4 linked regions of the Homo sapiens genome follow. The protein of the gene in region 1 purifies or fractionates together with the protein of each later gene. This does not show direct contact. Each region holds a gene or a part of one and is shown in the gene's direction. Other genes may lie near its edges.

Region 1 (5,152 bases):
TCATTGCACCTGTAATCTTTAAATTTACACAAATAAAAAGTAATAGTTGGATTTAATTAAAATTTAGTGTTTATTACAAATAATTTGATATATTCAAGAATATATAAGATCTATTACCACCTTTCTGTGAATGTGTATAGTTCACCATTGAAACATAGGAGAATCTTAAACTATCTTCTTGGTAGAAATTGACATCCTACAACATTTTGAAGAAATGTGTATTTACACTTCTAACAGCTCAAGTTCAGTGGATTTTCATAACTTTGCAGGATACTTATTTTATAGCTTCATGAGTAGACTAATATTTCCTGGTATACCTCAAAGTATCACTTTGTTTTACTTACAATTGATTTAATTTTTCAGAAAATATTTTAGAGAAAATTTTATCTCAATTTTAATAGTGATAATGGAGAAGTGATTGACGTCTCTAATATCTCTGAGTTACAGTTAAGTGACAGCATCTACTAGGACCCCAAATCTTTGAGATTTTAGTCAGCTAATCTTTATTTTATAATTGAACTTTTCATAATTCATGGTATATAGCTTAGAAGCGTTATTAAAGTGGAGAACTACACACAAAAAAAAAGAACGACAAAGTGTTGGAAGTAAAGTTTCGATTCGAAGTAAATGATCTCAGGAAAAAATAACTTTTCAAATATCTATAAAACAATAACTCAGTCAGTTATCTGAAGTCACTCATCTATAATTATCTCTCATCCTTGTCTTCATTCTCCAACTTCTTACTAGATTTTTCTTTTCAAGGGATCTTTACTCTGGAAAATAATTCTATTTTATCACCATAGCAAAACACTGAAAAATATTTCTTACTGATATTTTGGATCAACACATCTTATATTGAGATAATGTAGTTTCATCTCCAGTGGGTTGCATATACTACTAGCATGCCAATTGAGGAATGGGGGTAGGGTGTAAGACAACTCAGCTGGCTGCAACTGATGATACATAAAATCACAGATCCATTACATGTATGCATTTAATAATGTGACATGTAAACTGTATAGTTTTGAGAACAATAGGGAAAAGGCTACTAAAGCAACAAGTGAATTATGAACTGTCAGTCCAAGAACCACAGCGGCCCAAACTGGTCATACCTCAATATGTTCAGTGGAAATATAGGGACCAACAAACACAATAAACAATGTTATAAAGAGAAACATAAATTTGATTTCTAAGAGAAGTTTAAAATGTTGATGATGAAAATTACTTAAAAATATGATATTCAAATCTTAGGCTCTTCAGTATACTGGTATCCTAGGAGCAGGACTGGTATGTTCTACCAATTAAATAAAAGAAGAGTGATCTGTCGCAAATTAAAGAGGGAGAAATTGATTAATAACATTTACCAATTTGATAATTTGTTCCTACAAATTTTTCTCAATTCTTTGCTGCCTTAACCATTTGTTAGCTATCAAAGCCTAGTAGGGGGCAGAGTAAATGCAAAATGGCAAATGAATGTCAATTGTAAAATGTGGAAATGGGTGATCATGTTTCTCAGAAAGCCTTGTGTTTTTCATAGATGTGACTAATGACGTTTGGTAATGTAATGACGTTTTGGTCAATGATGGACTGCATATATGACAGTGGTCCCATAAGATTATAATAGCATATTTTTACTGTTACTTTCTCTGTTTAGATATGATGTGTAGATATTCAAATAGTTACCATCATGTTACACTTGCCTACAGTGTTTAGTACGGTAACAATCTGCACGAATTTGTAGCCCAGGAGCAATAGGCCATACCATGTAGCCTAGGTGTGTAGTAGGTTACACCATCAAGATTTGTGAGTGAGTACATACTGTGAAGTTGCACAACAGTGAAATCACCTAACAACACATTTCTCAGAGCACATCCCTATTGGTAAGCAACACATGGCTGTATTTGATTGAGTCAGAGTTCCAGATAGTGAAATTATTTTGAGTTCTTGTAATGTAATTAAATTTCTCAGTAATTCAGGGTCTTCTATAACCATACCATGGATCTGTGTGTCCTCCAAATAAATAAGTTAGCAAACCAGTAATTTCAGAAAGAAAAAGTATGTATCTCACTGAATTTATTAAGATATACAAATTTCAATATAAAAATTAACTTTAGGTGTTTTCATCCACTGCATTTCATATGACAGAGAGAAAAATGTTGTTTATCACTGAACTTTCATTATGTCCTTATACAAAGAGCAGAATCTGTCTGGGCACCTTGACCACAGAACTCTCTTGTTTGTTTCAGGAGCCACCATCAGCGTGATCATCGATGTGGATATGCACATTTCTGTCATCATCTCTGCACTCATTGCCACTCTGTACACACTGGTGGGAGGGCTCTATTCTGTGGCCTACACTGATGTCGTTCAGCTCTTTTGCATTTTTGTAGGGCTGGTAAGTGGGAGCACCCAAGATTCTCCTCCTTTTTTTCTGTAAAAGGTAATGTATTTTATACTAACTCATTAAAAATGAGTAGAAATATTATTTTCCCTCATGAGTAATACATACTAAGTCACATACATGAAATTTCAAATTTCTCCATAAATTAATTAGATGAAAAACTCGTCATTTTGATAAAATTTGACAGAAAAGTGTGCTCTCCATTGGACTGTTAGAAAGGTCTAGGTCTTGCTTTCCTTAATGCCTAGATTTGATGGAAACTTATGCATGATCTCCTTTTAGTATTTAAGGCAATCCATTTCCCTCGGCAGAGATAACAAAATTCAAACCTTAGTGGTAACTTGTACAAGTCTCCCTTTACGTTAGTTGGTGAATCCTAAGAATGCTCATAAGACATAGAAATGATCCCATTGGAAAACTGTGGATTTCAAATATTAATCATCACTATTTGTGGTCTAAAAACAAAGAAAATTCTTAATTATATAAGGCACCAGAAAGATTTATTATCTATTGTTTTTATTATAATTATGAGACATGAGTATTATTAGTATTATTAGCACTATATTAAAAGCACTTTTGTGTGTCTGAACATATTTTAGTCAATGTTGAAGAAATGTGAAGAGTACAGTTATGCATATAATATTCAATACCTAAGATGTATCAAAAGAAGAATAAAAACTGGTGTGTCCATGCTGGGCTAGGGTCATCATAGGTTCATGTACATTATCTCACCATACACATATATTATCCCAGTTGTAGATTCTTTAGGGGCAATGCCCTCCTGCAAAGGCCACAGACTGAGCAACCTAACACTAGAGATCATGATTCATTTTCCCAAGGATGGTTAAGTACTCTTGATTCTCCTCATCTTTATTTATTTATCTTACAATTTAAAGCATTTCATTATATTTTACTTTTGACACTAGACACTTAGAAATTAAAAATGAAGAAGTAATCTCATGCCCTTCTCTCCTTTTTATAAACTTTCCATCATCTCTAATAATATCCTAGAGGAAAAATTGTAAAAAACAGACTACAATTAGATGTGCAGTTTAACTATAAATTTACATACGCTAGCAAAGATTATAGTATTTTCTCTTTTCTCCTTAGACATTTTATTTGCATTTCATGGAATTTCGTCCATTCATATTGTAACTGAATATGAGAATATTTAATTTGCTCAAGGACTCCCACTATTTTGTATTTAAATTACCAAAATTAAGTGGACCGTGCTGAAATTCTGATTTTTCCTTAGCATCAACATAAACTTCCAGAAATAAAATAGGGAACATAGAAATAAATCCCTCTTCAGAATGTCAGGAGCCAGGTTGGTTTGGCAATGACAGCTCTCATAACTGATGCACTAGGTATTCCAAGAAACACAACCCCAGGGAATGAACCTGTTATTGATGATATATGTGATTTCTCATTGCTTTGTATGAGACTAGAACTTAAAACCCACGGGTGCATAAATCAAGTATGCAAGTGTAAAGATGACAGTGCAAATATGTTAGAATATTTTTCCTGCCACAAAATGTAGCCAAATTGATAAGGAATGGAGTTCTGTTGGTTACTAGAGAAGGCCCTATTGAATTGGTTGAATAAAAGACTAAATAATGTTGTTTTCCAAACTTTAATTGCTGTGTGAGCATACATAATTAATCAACTTACCCCTTAGACCACCTTCTTTTCTCAAATTCTCTAATGTCATTGATTTTATCATCACCCCTGGAGCTCCAAAACTGTAAACTTGAGGTTTTTCTTTTCATTTTCCCTCTCTCTGACCTCTCTCTCCTTCTTGTAAGGGTTGTTGGCTCACTCTTCATAATCCTTTTTAGTACCGATATTTTTTCATTCCCAGTGTCACTGCTTTACTTCAGCCTTCATCTAGGTGGAATTGAAATCACCTACCACTTTCCCTGACTCTTCCTTTTCACTAAACTCACCATTCATGTCTATGTTATTAAATTTCAGAATAAATTCCACTGAAAACTTTTTAAGACTTAAAAGAATTTTTTCTAGCTTCCAGTTGCCTGCAAAAACAAAATACAAATCCTTTAGCTTGCAATTTGAGTTTTCTCCACACATCCATCTTTATCTCTCCCATTTCCCCAAGCTACTCCCTTGCCAGCAAAGCCTGTCACCAACAGATGTGGGTGCGAGTGTACACGCACACACACACACCCCATTTATTCTTCTCCTCTTTGACTTGCTCCATCTAAACATCTCTTCCTTCAATTCTTTATTCTTCTACCTGTTAGTATTGGGCCCATCTTTGAAGGCTTATATGTCACCCATGTATTTCTCAATCACATATTTTCTTATTACTTTAATGAATGGATATCTTTCCCTTAAGGAATGGATATCTTTCCCTAATTCACAGAAAACATAAAAGTGTGTGTGCCTACACACACTTTTATATGGATATATATTTCAAATATAATTTTTAAAAAATTTTTATTTTATTTTGTTTATTATTATTATTTGTAGAGACCAGGTCTCACTGTATTTCCCAGGCTGATATTGAACTCCTGGACTCAAGCAATCCTCTAACAGTGGCTACCCAAAGTGCTACGATTATAGGCATGAGCCACTGTGCCTGGCAGTTTCTTTTTCTTTTGCGACAGGATCTGGCTCTGTCAGCCAGGCTGGAGTGCAGTGGCTCAATTACCACTTACTGCTGCCTCTGCCTCTCAGGTTTAAGCAATCCTCCCACCTCAGCCTCCTGAGTAGCTGGGACTACGGGTGTGC
Region 2 (5,152 bases), on another chromosome or scaffold:
CAGTGAATGATCTCTTCCTAATGCCTTAAATGAAGACGGACTGTTCCTCTACCAACCTTAATGAGATCCTCCTATCTTATAAATCTGAATTCATTTCCTTATTTCTTGAGCTAAGTAAACCATGTTTATCTTGAAACAGTTCAGAGCAGTCCTCACTTTCTTAGATAGAATTCAACTTGGCAAACATTTATACAGAAGGCTTTTCCATGTAAAATCCAAATAATCAACCTGTAAGTGAACTTTTGGAGCACCAAGTCATTTCAGATCGTGAATTTCCTGTAGGAGACTAGGGAACCATGTGGCTCTGAAAATGAGTGTAGTTTTTTATGTCAGGTTCAAGATCTTGAAGCGCTCAAACAATATTCCAGGGATTTCCAGGGATGGCTGTGGCTGTCAATAGCGGATTGATTCCAGGGATAGATGTGGCTGTCAATAGCGGATTGTGCGTGACTGTTTCCATTGCACCGGCAGCTTCACGTTCCCCTGTCTGTTAACTAAGCTGCTCTTTATTAACAGTAGATTCCAAATACAGGGCCCTAGTCTCTGCAGAGTTCATTGTCTCAGAAGGAAACGAGCGATGGTATTGGTTGATGAGGGCTGTCAGGGTGCGTGAACTAATCACTGTGGGGGAGCAGAAGAAAGAGGCTTACACCCAGTGGGTGATGGATCAAGAAATGTCTCACCCACACTCCCACCCTTTTTTTACCCACTAGCTGAGTCTTGGAAGATGAAGAGGTGTTTTTGAGGCAGAGACAACTACAGGTTTCCTACAACATGAAATGGCAGGAGTTAGTGAAGGAGCGATGGGAAAGGCCAGCTCTTTGGGGCTAGGTGTAGGCTGTGGGTGGTAGAGTGGTGGGCAGGGACATGGAGGGAAGGTCTGCGTGCCAGGCTTTGTGTGGTTGCTGTCCAGAGCTATTGGTGACATTTCGGCAGGACAGTAGCCTGATGGGATGTGTGTTTTGGAAGATCAGCCCAGCGGTGTTGCTGCTGCAGAGGGTGGCTAGAGTTGGTCAAGTACCGGTACCTAGCTAGAGCTGGACAGGACCGGTACCTGTTGAGGGACGCTTGGGTAGCATTTATCAAGAAGTCTAAAATGCAGCTCTCTTGAGGTCTGGCAATTGCTCTAGAATTTTTTCCAAAGGAATTTTAAAGGTGTGCTTAAATGTGTACATATGAAGTGGAAATTTCAGGTATTTTAGGTGTCCTGCTTTAGGAGATAAGGACCAAAATTGACTTAACTGATTCATCCATACTGTGGTCTGCATCTCTAACAAGTAAAAATGGTGTGGCTGAAATACTTTTATTGACATGAGGAGAGGTTCAGAATATACTTAAGTGAAAGTAAACTGTAAAACAGTATGGCCAGTACAAAGCCCTTCTGTGTTTAAAGTAAAACAAAAGTGTATGTTTGTGTAGCATAGAAAAGGAAACATCAAAGGATGTACTCACTGTGATGCCAAGTGATCTTTTATATTCTTCTTAGCTCTTTTCTATATATTCTGGTTTTTCTACAGTAAGCAGTTATTTTGTAATAAAGCTACAGTAAAACCACAAAAAGATGTCAGCTCTAAGAGAAACTGCATTCCATTTTGAGCACGTTAGGCTGCTGGTGTGGAGGTCCGCTAGGCACAGAGCTGCAGCCCGTTCTCGTTTCAGTCAGTTACCATTAATTCTGTCCTGAAGTGACAGAATTAGCTTAGCACACATTTACTTGGTTAGTGTCACAACCGTTTTCCTCAGTTACTGTAACTTCACGCTTCCAGGTGACATTGGGGAGGATCTGGTGGCAGCATTTTCAGTGCAGGGGCCTCAGCTTTTGTATCTTAATGTAAATACTCAGTGCTTCCACCTGTTGTTGAGGCCTTTTTGGCTTCTGGTTCCGGATGGCATTGGGTGAACAAGAAAACCTAGCTACAGTTTACAAGCATAAAAGCTGTCCATCTTCTCACCTGAATTCAGTGTCATCTCTGAAGCATTTATAGCTGCAGCATTTTTTCTGTAGACAAATACATTTTCTGGATGATTACAAATAAGGTCCAGTCTGCTCTGATGTGGTGTCAAGTTGATGCCTGTAAACCAAAAGCCTGAGGATTATTGACTGTAGGTGTTGAGGCCATTGAAATTGTGGTTTTCTAGGTGGACCATAGGCGCAAAGACTGTTACACTTTGCTCGGCGTGTTTGGTAACTGATGGCAGTGTCTGCAGGTAATTGGGCACAATTTAGAGGCGCACACGGATCCAGACACAGAATGTGGCCTCAGAAGCTAACACTGGAATCAAGTTGTCTGGCCTTCAGTTAAATCCAGCCCAAGCACTGCAAAGTTGTCCTTGACCGGCAGGTTTTGTCCAGGTTTTCAAGTCGCCAAGCCATGCATGCTGGGAGTGGGTCTGAAAGTGGTTGAAGTGTGTGTAAGGCTGGTCTCCTTATCCACGATGACTGTTTGTTCAGCCTTAGCAGTGTCCGTGAGCCTGGAAAAGTGATGTGGGTGACCACCTGGGAGGCGCGTGTGTGGGATGGAAAGCCAGTGTGGAGGCTGTGGGGCCAGGGTGGCTGGTGACTGTGTTTAGGTGGGCTTTATAGAGGACGGTGCCTCAGTTCAGGGAGACGGTGATTTGCAAAGTGGTCGGCCAGAACAAGTTCAGGGTGGTTTAATTGTTTGCATTAAACGATACTGATTTTTGGTTCATGTGGATCATTAAGTATTAGTCGCATATTTATACTTTTAAGGATACAGCAGCGATATGCAAATTATGAAAGGAGCTCTCCAACACTTTCAAGCTTTGGAAATGTCTCATGAGATCAGAATTCGTCTTCTGTCATTTACACTCCAAATTTTAATTGTGATGTTTCAAAAGTGGCCTATTTGTGGTCTCTGTTCCCATTGTTTGCCGTGAACCTGGGCTCAAAGGGCGGGCTCCTCGTAGCTCTTAATACCTTGGAATGCCGTCTGGGCTTGTGCCCAGGCCATTGTTGAAGTGGGAGGCTGTAATCCCCCCTGCCAACAGCTTAATTAAGAAAAAAAAGGGCTCTTTACTGCTTGCTTTCCCCTCAAGTCTATTTTTTAGGATGGACAGTAAGGAGTATAATTTGGTTTTTCTTTTAAAATAATTTTCCCACCATTCACAGCCTCTGTTACATTTTCCCACCTCCTTTCAAAAAGGGTTTGAGATTGGACAGGTCATAAGGACGTGCACGATGAGACAGTTAAAGGTTTTGAAAGAGGAAACCACATACCCGGAAACCACATGCACAGAAGTGGGAAACTGCAGCTGAATGCATTTGCTGCAGAGCTTTTGGGACCAAGGCAGAAGATGGAGATGAGGGATTGAACAGTGTTTGCAACATCCTGCCAGAGGGGATTCCTTCCGGCCGAGGAGAGGCCCGTGGCATCACTTGGTGGCCTTGAAAGACCCCTCCCTTTTCTGAAGGCTGTGGCTCTGGCTGGCAGCATAGAGTGGTGCCCTCCGTGTACTCTCTTGGAGGATGAACTTGGACTGCTGCTCCATCACACTGTACTTCCTGTAAGGATACCTCCATCATTGACCTTGGGAGAAGTTTCCCTCAGGCCTTAGTATGTTTTTACACTTAACCCTGAACAGTAGGACACAGTCTCGTGACTTCTCATGGCTGCCTGCTGAAAAGTTTGTAGCTGAATTTGGGCCCACCACTAGCACATCCGTAGGTCACGTGATGGCAGGTAGGTCTCAGCACAAGAGCACTTTGCAGTTGAAGTGGTGGCTCCTGAGAGTGCTCTCACTGAGTCAGGGTTTGCCCTGGGCAGGGCAGCCTCCACCAGGATTTGCCTTTCGTTCCTTGCGTAAGGGTTTCCTACTCTTACTTTTCTTTGGTCTCATTTTCTTGCTGATTTTTCTCATCCTGTATGATTTTGGTTAAGTTGTCTTAAATCCCTTCTGTAACAGGGGAGAATGTAAATACAGCTGGCCCTGCTATCTGCTACATCTGTGGATTCCACCATCCATGGATTGAAAATATTTGGGGGGAAAAACAATAGAAAATAACAATAATAAAAACAATACAAGTAAATACAATATAGTATAACGACTATTTACATAGCATTTACATTGTATTAGGTATTATGAGTAATCTAGAGACTATTTAAAGTATACAGGAGGGTATGTGAAGGTTTAAGCAAATACTGCACCATTTTATATCAGGGACTAAAGCGTCTGTGGATTTTGGGGTCCTGGGATCATTCCCTCTTGGATGATAAGGAACAGCTGTATATACCCTTAATTCCTATTATCCATCAGTTCTACAGAGAGAAAAACCCATATCCTCCCTTCTTTAACTTCCAAGATGATTTTATCATGAGTCCTTTTAAACTGACTGCCGTGTAGCCATCAGACAGCACATGTAATAGTGATTTTGGGGAACTCACAGAAAATCTCCCCACCTTTTTAATGGTAACTAGTAGAATAACTATTAAAGCTTAAAAATCACAATTGAAACGACTCAATCTTACTCCATTTTTCTTTCAGTTTTTCTTGTTGGATAAAAAAATTTTATTACAAAAGTAAAAATTCTCTGTTGTTACATGTTTTGATTTCTTTGGTTGCTTGTTAGCCTCAAAGCTTTTGCCCAGTTAAAACTTTTTTTCCAGCTCTAAATATACCTGTTGCAGAAAACTTAGAAAATTTAGAAAACACAAGGAAGACTATTGGCCGGGCGCAATGGCTTCCGCCGGTAATCCCAGCCCTTTGGGAGGCCGAGGTGGGCGGATCACAAGGTCAGGAGTTCGAGACCAGCCTGACCAACATGGTGAAACCCTGTCTCAACTATAAGTACAAAAATTAGCTGGGCGTGGTGGCAGGTGCCTGTAATCCCAGCTACTCGGGAGGCTGAGGCAGGAGAATCGTTTGAACCTGGGAGACGGAGGTTGCAGTGAAATCACGCTGTTGCACTCCAGCCTGGGCGACAGGGCCAGACTCCGTCTCAGAAAACAAAAAAAAAGACTATTAAATCCTTTCTGGTTTTCCCATCCAAAAATAACCACGGTGAATACTTTGGGGGTGGAGTTGTACGTTATTTTATTTTTGTATATGTACTTTTGTTCCCTTGGTAAGCCACATCACAAGTATATACTGTTGCCTGCTTTTTAAGCTTACCCGTATATTATGAATATTTACC
Region 3 (5,152 bases), about 22 Mb from region 1:
GTCCCTGGAGGCCTCCACGGCCTGCATGGGAATGGGCTGTGTTGTGCATGGAGCAGCCGTCCCCACAGGCGGTGTCTGAGTCAGTGAGCAGGGTGGAAAGGTTGTCCTATGAGCAAAAAAAATAGGAATCTCTATGGGCCCCAGGAGCAGATCTTGAAGGGGAGGCCCTGGGCCAAAGAGCCTGTTTTGTCAGTCCAAACAGGCTGAGCCTGATGCGTGCCTGCACAGGTTGGGAGTGTGAACCAGGGGCTCTCATGCCTGGCTGTCCTGGGTCCTCAGTGGGCACTAACGCAGGCCGACTTCCCAGGAGACCCTCTTGCCCCAGCAGCAGCTGCCTGTGCACCTCTGACCCTCTTTAATCTCACTGGCCCATCGCCTTCCCCAGGAAGCTGCATGCAGGCCCCTTCCTGCAGATGCTGGCCCACCCCAGATCTGCTGGCATGTGTAAGGCAGGCCAGGCCTTTACCTACAATTCACGTGTGGACAGATTCCCCAGAGGGTGGAGGGGAGAAAGGGAGTGGCAAGGAGGAGACGCTGCCCAGGTAGCGGCAGTGATCAGTGACCCTGAAATGTTGCTGATCCTGTGGAGGACTCGGAGGTGAGGCAGATTCACACCCTCTTAGATGCAGAATTCAGCTGCCAAGCAGTTTTTGATGCCTGGTTTTTTTGCTTGTTTTAACTTTTTGGGTTGTTTTAATTTTTTCTATTAGAAATTATATACGTAGGCTGGGAGTGGTGACTGATGCCTGTAATCCCAGCACTTTGGGAGGCCAAGGTGGAGGGATCGCCTGAGGTCAGGAATTCGAGACCAGCCTAGCCAACATGGTGAAACCTTGTCTACTAAAAATACAAAAATTAGCTGGGCATGGTGGTGCACACCTGTAATCCCAGCTACTCAGGAGGTTGAGGCGGGAGAATTGCTTGAACCCGGGAGGCGGAGGTTGTGGTGAGCTGAGATTGCACCACTGTACACACACACAAAAAAAAAAAAGAAAAGAAATTATATATATATGGTTTGGGTTTATTTATTTATTTTATTTTATTTTATTTTATTTTGTGTTTGGAGATGGAGTCTCACTCTGTCGCCCATGCTGGAGTGGTGCAGTGGCATGATCTTGGCTCACTGCAACCTCCATCTCCTGGGTTCAAGTGATTCTCCCACCTCAGCCTCGCAAGTAGCTGGGATTACAGGCACAGGTCAGCATGCCCGACTAATTTTTGTATTTTTAGTAGTAACGGGGTTTCACCATGTTGGCCAGGCTGGCCTCAAACTCCTGACCTCAGGCAATCCGTCCACCTTGGCCTCAGACAAAGTGCTGGGATTACAGGTGTGAGCTACTGCACCCAGCATTTTTTTTTTTTTGAGACAGGGCCTGGCTGGGTTGCTCAGCCTGGAGTGCAGTGTTGTGATCACAACTCACTGCAACATTGACCTCCTGAGCTCAAGTGATCCTCCCACTTCAACCTCCCAAGTAGCTAGTACTATAAGCATGCACCCCCACACCTAGCTTTTATTTTATTTTTTTGTAAGATGGGTCTTGCTATGTTGCCCAGGCTGCTCTAGAACTCCTGGGCTCGAGCGATCCTCCTGCCTTAGCCTCCCAAAGTTCAGAGATTACAGGCATGAACCACTACACTGGTCCATTGTGTGCTTTTTTTTTTTTTTTTGACAGGGTCTTACTCTGTTGCCCAGGCTGGAGTGCAGTGGCGCTGTCTCTGCTTCAAGTGATTCTCCTGGCTCAGTCCCAAGTAGCTGGGACTACAGGTGCCTGTCACCACACCCAGCTAATTTTTGTATCTTTAGTAGAGACAGGGTTTCACCATGTTGAGCAGACTGATCTTGAACTCCTTACCACAAGTGATCTGCCTGCCTCGACCCCCTAAAGTGCTGGGATTACAGGTGTGAGCCGCCGCTCCTGGCCTAGCCATTATGTATTTTTAAAGACGGTCTTACTCTGTCACACAGGCTGGAGTGCAGTGTCATAATCATCACTTGGTGGCACAATCATCACTCAAGCCAGCCTGTCACATCAGTGACTATAGGCATGCATCACTACAGCCAGCTAATTTAACTTTTTTTTTTTTTTTTGCGGAGATATGGGGATGCCTCGCTGTGTTGCCCAGGCTGGTCTTGAACTCCTGGCCTCAGCAATCTTCCCGCCTCAGCTTCCCAAGTAGCTGGAATTACAGTTGCAAGTCACCACACCTAACTTTTTATTTTGAAATAACTTCAGATTTACAGATAAGTTTCCACGCATAATAAAAATAACTTGCAGGCTGAGCACAGTGGCTCACGCCTGTAATCCCAACACTTTGGGAGGCCAAGGCGGGAGGATCACTTGAGGCCAGGAATTCGAGACCAGTGTGGGCAACGTCGGGAGACCTCATTTCTACAAAAAAAAAATTAGCCAAGTATGGTGATGTGCAACTATGGTCCCAGCTACTCAGGAGGCTGAGGTGGGAGGATCACTTGTGCCCAGGAGCAATGAGCTGTGAGCGTGCCACTGCACTTTAGCCTGGGGTAACAGAACAAGATCCTGTCTCAGGGAAAAAAAAAAAAAAGAAACTTTCATAGATCTTCACCCAGATTTCCAAACTGTTAATACTTTGCTGCATGTGTTGGTTTCCACCTCTATTGTATGTGTTTTTTTTTCTCTAAGCCAATATGAGTAAGCTACAGGATATGGCATCCCTTGACCTCTTAATATTTCAGTGTATTTCCTAGAAGCGAATGCATTATCCTATATAGTCACAGTGCCTGTAACCACACCAGGAAGTTAGTATTGCCACCAGGCCTCACACTGTGTGCAGTGATGTTTCACAGGCTCACCCACTGTATATAGTGATATTTCTAGTCCCCTTCAGTCAGGAATGGTCCCTTGCCTTTCTGTCTTTCCTGACCTTGACCCCTCCAGAGCATGCGGCCGCCCCTTAGGCTGTGTGGTATTTGCTGGTGACTAGGCCCAGCATGGGCTTTGTTGGGAGGAGCACCGTAGTGGGACACCTGGTCCTTGCCAGGTGCCCTTTTATCACTGGGTTAAAAAGGTGCCGGTCAGGTTTTTCCATTGTAAAATAATTACTTTGTGCCCAGGTTAAATAGTAATGAGGCTGGGCATGGTGGCTCATGCCTGTAATTCCAGGACTTTGAGAGGCTGAGGTGGGCGGATCACTGGAGCTCAGGAGTGTGAGACCAGCTCAGGCAACATAGCAAAATCCCATCTCTACCAAAAATTTAAAAATAACCAGGTGTGGTGGTGTGCGCCTGTAATCCCAGCTACTTGAGAGGCTGAGGTGGGAGGATTGCTTGCACCCAGGAGGCGGAGGTAGCAGTGAGCCAAGATCATGCCCCTGTACTCCAGCCTGGGCTACAGAGTGAGACCGTATCTCAACCAAAAAAAAAAAAAAAAAAATTAATAGTGCCTGGGCAACATAGCATGACCTTGTTTCTACTAAAAAGAAAAACATCAGCCAGGCGTGGTGGTGTTGGTCCCAGCTACTTGGGAGGCCTAAGTCTAGGAGGTTGAGGTTGCAGTGAGCTGTGATTGCATCATTGCACTCCAGCCTAGGCGATAGGGTACGATCCTGTCTCAAAAAAAAATTGATAACGAGAATTTACCGGGAAGATGTATGGAGACTATGTAATTATCAGTAGTATTAACATCCACTTTTGATTCTCCTATTTTTTCAAATTGATTTTATTTGCAGACAGGGTCTTGTTCTCTTACCCCAGGCTGGAGTGCAGTGGTACGATCTCTGCTCACAGCAACCTCAACCTCCTGGGCTCAAGTGATCCTCCTGTCTCAACCCCCCAAGTATCTGGGACTACAGGGAGGCATCACCACACCTGGCTAATTTTTGTATTTTTTTGTGGAGACAGGGTTTTGCCATGTTGCCCAGGCTGGGAATTTCTTAATTTTTTAGAAACAGGGTCTTGCTCTGTCACCCCAGGGTGGAGTGAAGTTGGTACGATCATTTGTCACTATAGCCTCAACTCGTGGGCCCAGGCCATTCTCCCTCCTCAGCCTTCTAAGTAGCTAGGACTACAGGCACATGCCACCAGGCCCAGCTGTTTTATGTTTCAATGTTTTTGTGGAGATAGGTTCTCATTTTGTTGCCCAGGCTGATCTCAAATGCCTGGCCTCAAGAAATCCTCCTGCCTTGGTCTCCCAAGGTGCTGGTGTGAGCCCCCATGCTCACAGGTGTGAACCCCCATGCCCAACCTCACTGTTGATTCTTGACCAAATCAGCTATTAATAGGGCGGTTACTAAATGGTGGTTCTCTAACTTCATCCCTCCTTCATTGATTTGTGGGTCAATGGTCACTCTGTGGTAAGGAAGACTTCTCTCTTTGCTATTTATTTATTCAGGTATATCAGTGTGGATCAGGGGGCTGGGGGGAGGTGTGCATTGTGCTATTGAACAAGTTGTAATCTGTCCCTGCTCTCGTTGATTTTGATATCCAGATTGCCCCTGTTACAGCGGGAGCGAGTTACAGCGGGAGCCTGTAACTCGGGCCTGTTTCTGTGTCTCCCTCAGGACACCAGCCATACCCTTTGCTTCCTATGGCCTCCACCACACTAGCCTCCTAAAGCGACACATCTCTCATCAGACGTCTGTGAATGCAGACCCCGCCTCCCACGAGATCTGGAGGTCAGAAACTCTGCTCCAGGTGAGAGTTGAGCTGGTCAAAAGAAACTGTTCAGCCAGCTGGGCATGGTGGCTCGTGCCTATAATCCCCAGCACTTTGCGAGGCCTAGGTGGGCAGATGACCTGAGGTCAGGAGTTTGGGACCAACCTGGCCAGCATGGTGAAACCACGTCTCTACTAAAAACACAAAAATTAGTTGGGCGTGGTGGCAGGCGCCTGTAATCCCAGCTACTCGGGAGGCTGAGGCGGGAGAATCGCTTGAACCCAGGAGGTGGAGGCTGCAGTAAGCTGAGATCGTGCCATTGCACTCCAGCCTGGGTGACAGAACTAGACTCCATCTCAAAAAAAAAAAAAGAAAAAGAAAAGAAACTGTTGCCACCTTCCACTATGTGGGGCAGAGTCCCAGAGGCGGCCCCTCAGCCCGGGGCTGATTCTAAATTGTTGATATTTTCCTGCTGTGACATTTAGAAAACATGAAAGTAAATCTGCCCACCCTTTTAACTTG
Region 4 (4,543 bases), on another chromosome or scaffold:
CCCAGCCCCTCCCCAATCAAGCCTGGAGATATTAAAAGGTAGGTCTGTCCTGGCTCTCCTCCAGGACAGGAGGAGGATCTGTGCCAGCCCGCTGGGGTCGGGCAGCCTCACCCCAGTTCTGGAGACAAAGCCTGGGTCAGTAGTCTCCCAAGGGACTAAAACCCTTAGCTGCTCTCCTTGGTGGGGTGGAGCACAACATGCCCCTCCTTCCACAGTGCCACCCCCAGTACCACTGTGGTCCAGCCTCTCTCCATACCTCTCCATACCCCCAATTCAGCCTCTTCTTGCCCCCACTGGCTTTCCTAAGATGCGAGTCTGATTAGATCTGTCTCTTACTCAAAACCTTTCTGGTCCCTATTTGGTGATCTGCCTATTTTCCTGTTTTGTGACTTGGAATTATTAATCAGGTCACATTATCTCAGTTCCCCTGAAAGTTCCCTGAGGAGCTACCTCAGATGTGCTTCTGTTGCTGGGTCCGGGGACCCACAGCAGACCCTTCCTCTGGTGGCCATGATGGCAGGGGCAGGGCTGAGGTGTGTCAGTTGTCTGTTGTGTGTGTGAAATCAGAATACTGGAGTGAGAGTCTAGCCACCTCAGGGGGTTCTGTGAAGCTCAGGACAGTGACAGTGAGGGCTTCCCAATCCTTCAGATGACCCCTCTCCATAGACAGGTACAGAGCCTAAAGCCCCTGGCCCTATACCCAATATTGATACCAAACCAAGAAGTCAGTTACTTTCTGCTTCCCTCCTGGGAGGATGCCAGGAAGCACCAAAGGGCCCAGGTGGGGTGCAGCAGCATCTTTTCTGCGTTCCTCTTGACTGTCAAAAATGAATTTTAGTCCTTTTTTCCTGGAAATAACATTTCTCTGTCTCTGTCTCTTCTTACAGAGGAATTCCCAATTATGAATTTAAACTTGGTAAGATAACTTTCATCAGAAATTCACGTCCCCTTGTCAAAAAGGTTGAAGAGGTGAGTGTATTTCCTTGTATTTCCTTGGTTGGTAATGAGGAGATTTATTTGCTAGTGATGACTGAAGTTCTTGGCATTCTGAGTAGGGGTGTGCATTAGTCTGTTTCCAAGCTGCTGGTAAAGATGTACCCGAGACTGGGCAATTTACAAAAGAAAGAGGTTTAATGGACTTACAGTTCACATGGCTGGGGAGGCCTCACAATCATGGCAGGGGGCAAGTCACATCTTACATGGATGGTAGCAGGCAGAGAAAAAGCTGGTGCAGGGAAACACCTACTTATAAAACCATCAGATCTCATGAGACTTATTCACTATCATGATAACAGCACGGAAAAGACCCGCCCTCATGACTCAGTTACCTCCCACCGACTCAGTTACCTCCCACCTGGTCCCTCCCACAACACGTGGTAATTCAAGATGAGATTTGGGTGGGGACGCAGCCAAACCACATGAGGGTGTCTGTCATGTTTTCCCTTTCCTAGGGTCCCTCTGCTCCCTGGTGTCCTGTTTTTTTCTGTAGAGCTGGTGTAGGGTGTATGAAACAGAAGACTTGCAGCATGGGGGTCAGGAGCTCTGTCTTGCTCTAGAGCCGACTCCAGGCTCTGTTATCACAGAACTGTGTGCCCTGGGTGGGCTTCGTCTTCCAACAGAGACCTTGAACTTCAAATATAGGCAGCACCTTCTAGCTGAGCAGGGTGGTGGCGGGACAGAGGAAGGCAAGGGCTGAGCATCCTGTAGACATGGGCACTTTGTGGGAATATGGCCAGGCCTGGCAGCAACTGGAACGCAGTCACCTCTTTGTGATGAGGATTTCTACAACACCAGCGCTTCAGACCCATCGCTCTCCTGGTTCCTTTTCTCAAAGGATTGGACCCTTGAGGATCCAGGATCAGGGCAGAGGGCAGATGTACTGAGCCACCCATTCAGGACCAGCTGCTACATGGGAGCCATCCCAATTACTGAACTCTTTTCTCTAGCACTTGGGGTGGTTGGGGACAGAGACCACTGTGAAGTTTGCACACCTGGTCCTACTCACAACCACTTCTGGGCTCAATGTTCAAGTTGAAACAGCATTGGGCATTGGGACCTTTCAGGCTCAGAGGAGCAAACATAGTGGCCAGTCAGACCTCACCCTCCAGCTCCTCCTTCAGGCACCATCCAGGCTTCACCAGCTACAGGCTGCCTTTCTCACTAAAAGCCAGTGCCTGACTCCGACCTAAGACCTTAGCATGGGACGTCCCCCAGGCTGACTGTGACCTGACTGTTGCAAATTTACAGAAGGCAGGGGAGGCCAGTGGGCACAGCAGGCCTGTTTGACCATAAATATGTATTTAAGAAGTATATGTTTAAAGATGGGATTGAAGACATATTTAGCTCTATTCCATCCTGCAGCCCCACTAAGGCTGTGGCTAAAGGTCATGAGGTAAGAAAGACAGTGGAAGAGGAGGCAACTACAAGGCTTTGGAAGCCCCAGGTACCTTAGTAGACCATAGAAAGCCTAGAAGCAGTTCTGTGTAGATTGTGGAATTCTCAAAAGGCACCTCTAGAAATGAGGGACTAAAGACAGAATTCTGTTACTAAGCAGTTAGAGCTGCATTACCCTCCCTCCCCCATCCCAGAAGGCTGGAGGCTCGACTCCAGTAGGTCTCTAGACTACTATCTCTGAAGTGAAGGCCACAGTCAGAAAGCTTTCCATTCCAGCATCTAAATAATAGAGGATTTGTGGGAAGAACAGCCACAGAAACCAAAGGAGCAGAAATCATCAGGGAAATAGTTTCCCCAAAGATGGGCACAATTTTGCAGATTTGAAGGGCTCACTGAGTTCCAGCAAAATGAATGAAAATAGCCCCACTTTGAGGCAAAGAAAGATCCTAAAGCTTCTAGAGAGAGAACAGAGGTATCACCATGCATTAAGGACATCATCAGCCAAGCGCCATGGCTCACACCTGTAATCCCAACACTTTGGGAGGCTGATGCGGGAAGATCATCTGAGCCCAGGAGTTTGAGACCAGCCTGGGCAATATAGGGAGACCCTGTCTCTACAGAAAATTTTAAAAATTAGCCAAGCATGGTGGCACGCACCTATAGTCCCAGCTACTTTAATGCTGAGTTGGGAGCATCACTTGAGCCTGGGAGGTGGAGGCTGCTGTGAGCTGAGATCACACCACTGCACTCCAGCCTGGGTAACAGTAAGTCCCTGTCTCCCAAAAAAAGGGACATCATCTTAGCAGGACACAGAGGAAACTAGAAGATAGTGGAGCAATATACTCAAAATTCTGAGGGGAAATTTTTTCCAACCTAAAATTCTGTACCAACTCTTATGAGCTGGATTGTGTCCCTCCAGTGTTTCTGTGTTGAAGCCCTAACCCCCAGTAACTCAGATAGGGCCATTTAAAGAAGCAATTAAGTTAAAATAAGACCATTAGAGTTGGCCATAATTCAATCTGGTGTCCTTTTAAGAAGAGGAAATTTGGACATAGGAAGGGCCATGTGAGGACACAGCAAGAAGGCAGCCATCTGCAAGCCAAGGAAAAGGGTGTCAGAGGAAACCAAACCTGCTGACACCTTGATCCTGCACTTCTAGCCTCCAAAACTATGAAGAATAAATTTCTGTTGTTTGAGCCACCCTATCTTTGGCATTTTATATGGCAGCCCTAGCAGACTAACATACCAACCAGCCTATCAATGAAATATGAGATTAGAAAAAAGGAACTCACAAGAAGATAATCCTCATGCATCTTTTCTCAGGAAGCTCCTAGGAGGTGTTCCTCACTAAAATGAAGGAATAAGGTAGAAATAAGAAAGTCATAGAATCCAGGAAATAAGGAGCCCCCACTAACATGTACGGCACCTAGAGAAAGGCCAGTCCAGGTACGGCAGGGCGAAGGCCCAGGAGACACAGGTTTGTCAAAACAGATGAACTCCATGCAATGCAGGCTGTGATTGAATAGAGGAAGAAGCCAAACACAGCTATTGACACCAGGATGAATGGAAGGCTGTGCGGCAAAGGAAGACTAAATGCAGCTGTGACTCAAATTTACATGAATGTGACCACATAAATACTAAACAGTGCTCTATTGCAGGTATAACATGCTACAGTTAGTGGGGAGCCAGGTGCAGGGATGTGTGTTGAACATTCCAGAATCCTCTTCTTCCTAGGGAAAAGTTGAGATAATGCCTCAGACTGACTAGCAATAAAAGCATGTGAAAAAAAATATGTGCAGTTTTCAAAGGTTTGGGAAAAAACAATCCCTCTTTCTGCTGATGGAAGGATAGCTTAGTGGAATGTTTCTGAGGGCTGGTTGGTCTCTATATGTTAAAAGCATTAAAAGTGTGTACACACTTTGACCCAGGAATTTGAGCTCTAAAAAAAATCAGAGTTGTGTGCAAATACATTAAGCTGCTTACCACAACAATGTCCACTGGTAGAAAACTGGCCCTCCTACATCATGGAATTCTTTTTTACAGAATTCAGTTCTGTAGCCTTGGGAGTATACTAGACAGGAAGTTTATTGGCATGAGATTTCAGAATTAAGTGGGAAAACAATTCTTTAAGCATGTACAGAAAAGTGAC

The links. The genes of interacting proteins can lie anywhere in the genome.
Region 2: the proteins of SLC5A7 (region 1) and CHSY1 purify together in Homo sapiens (affinity purification with mass spectrometry; one large-scale study listed by BioGRID and IntAct). This does not show direct contact.
Region 3: the proteins of SLC5A7 (region 1) and SMPD4 purify together in Homo sapiens (affinity purification with mass spectrometry; one large-scale study listed by BioGRID and IntAct). This does not show direct contact.
Region 4: the proteins of SLC5A7 (region 1) and UFD1 purify together in Homo sapiens (affinity purification with mass spectrometry; one large-scale study listed by BioGRID and IntAct). This does not show direct contact.

The regions. Positions count from the first base shown.
Region 1 is NC_000002.12:107,995,592-108,000,743, forward strand, and holds part of SLC5A7 (high affinity choline transporter 1), read left to right. Parts: intron 1-2,246; coding exon 2,247-2,395; intron 2,396-5,152. UniProt on the Homo sapiens protein: High-affinity Na(+)-coupled choline transmembrane symporter. Functions as an electrogenic, voltage-dependent transporter with variable charge/choline stoichiometry.
Region 2 is NC_000015.10:101,240,921-101,246,072, reverse strand, and holds part of CHSY1 (chondroitin sulfate synthase 1), read left to right. Parts: intron 1-5,152. UniProt on the Homo sapiens protein: Has both beta-1,3-glucuronic acid and beta-1,4-N-acetylgalactosamine transferase activity. Transfers glucuronic acid (GlcUA) from UDP-GlcUA and N-acetylgalactosamine (GalNAc) from UDP-GalNAc to the non-reducing end of the elongating chondroitin polymer.
Region 3 is NC_000002.12:130,166,975-130,172,126, reverse strand, and holds part of SMPD4 (sphingomyelin phosphodiesterase 4), read left to right. Parts: intron 1-4,536; coding exon 4,537-4,669; intron 4,670-5,152. UniProt on the Homo sapiens protein: Catalyzes the hydrolysis of membrane sphingomyelin to form phosphorylcholine and ceramide. It has a relevant role in the homeostasis of membrane sphingolipids, thereby influencing membrane integrity, and endoplasmic reticulum organization and function.
Region 4 is NC_000022.11:19,451,175-19,455,717, reverse strand, and holds part of UFD1 (ubiquitin recognition factor in ER-associated degradation protein 1), read left to right. Parts: coding exon 1-38; intron 39-887; coding exon 888-969; intron 970-4,029; exon of another isoform or gene 4,030-4,124; intron 4,125-4,543. UniProt on the Homo sapiens protein: Essential component of the ubiquitin-dependent proteolytic pathway which degrades ubiquitin fusion proteins.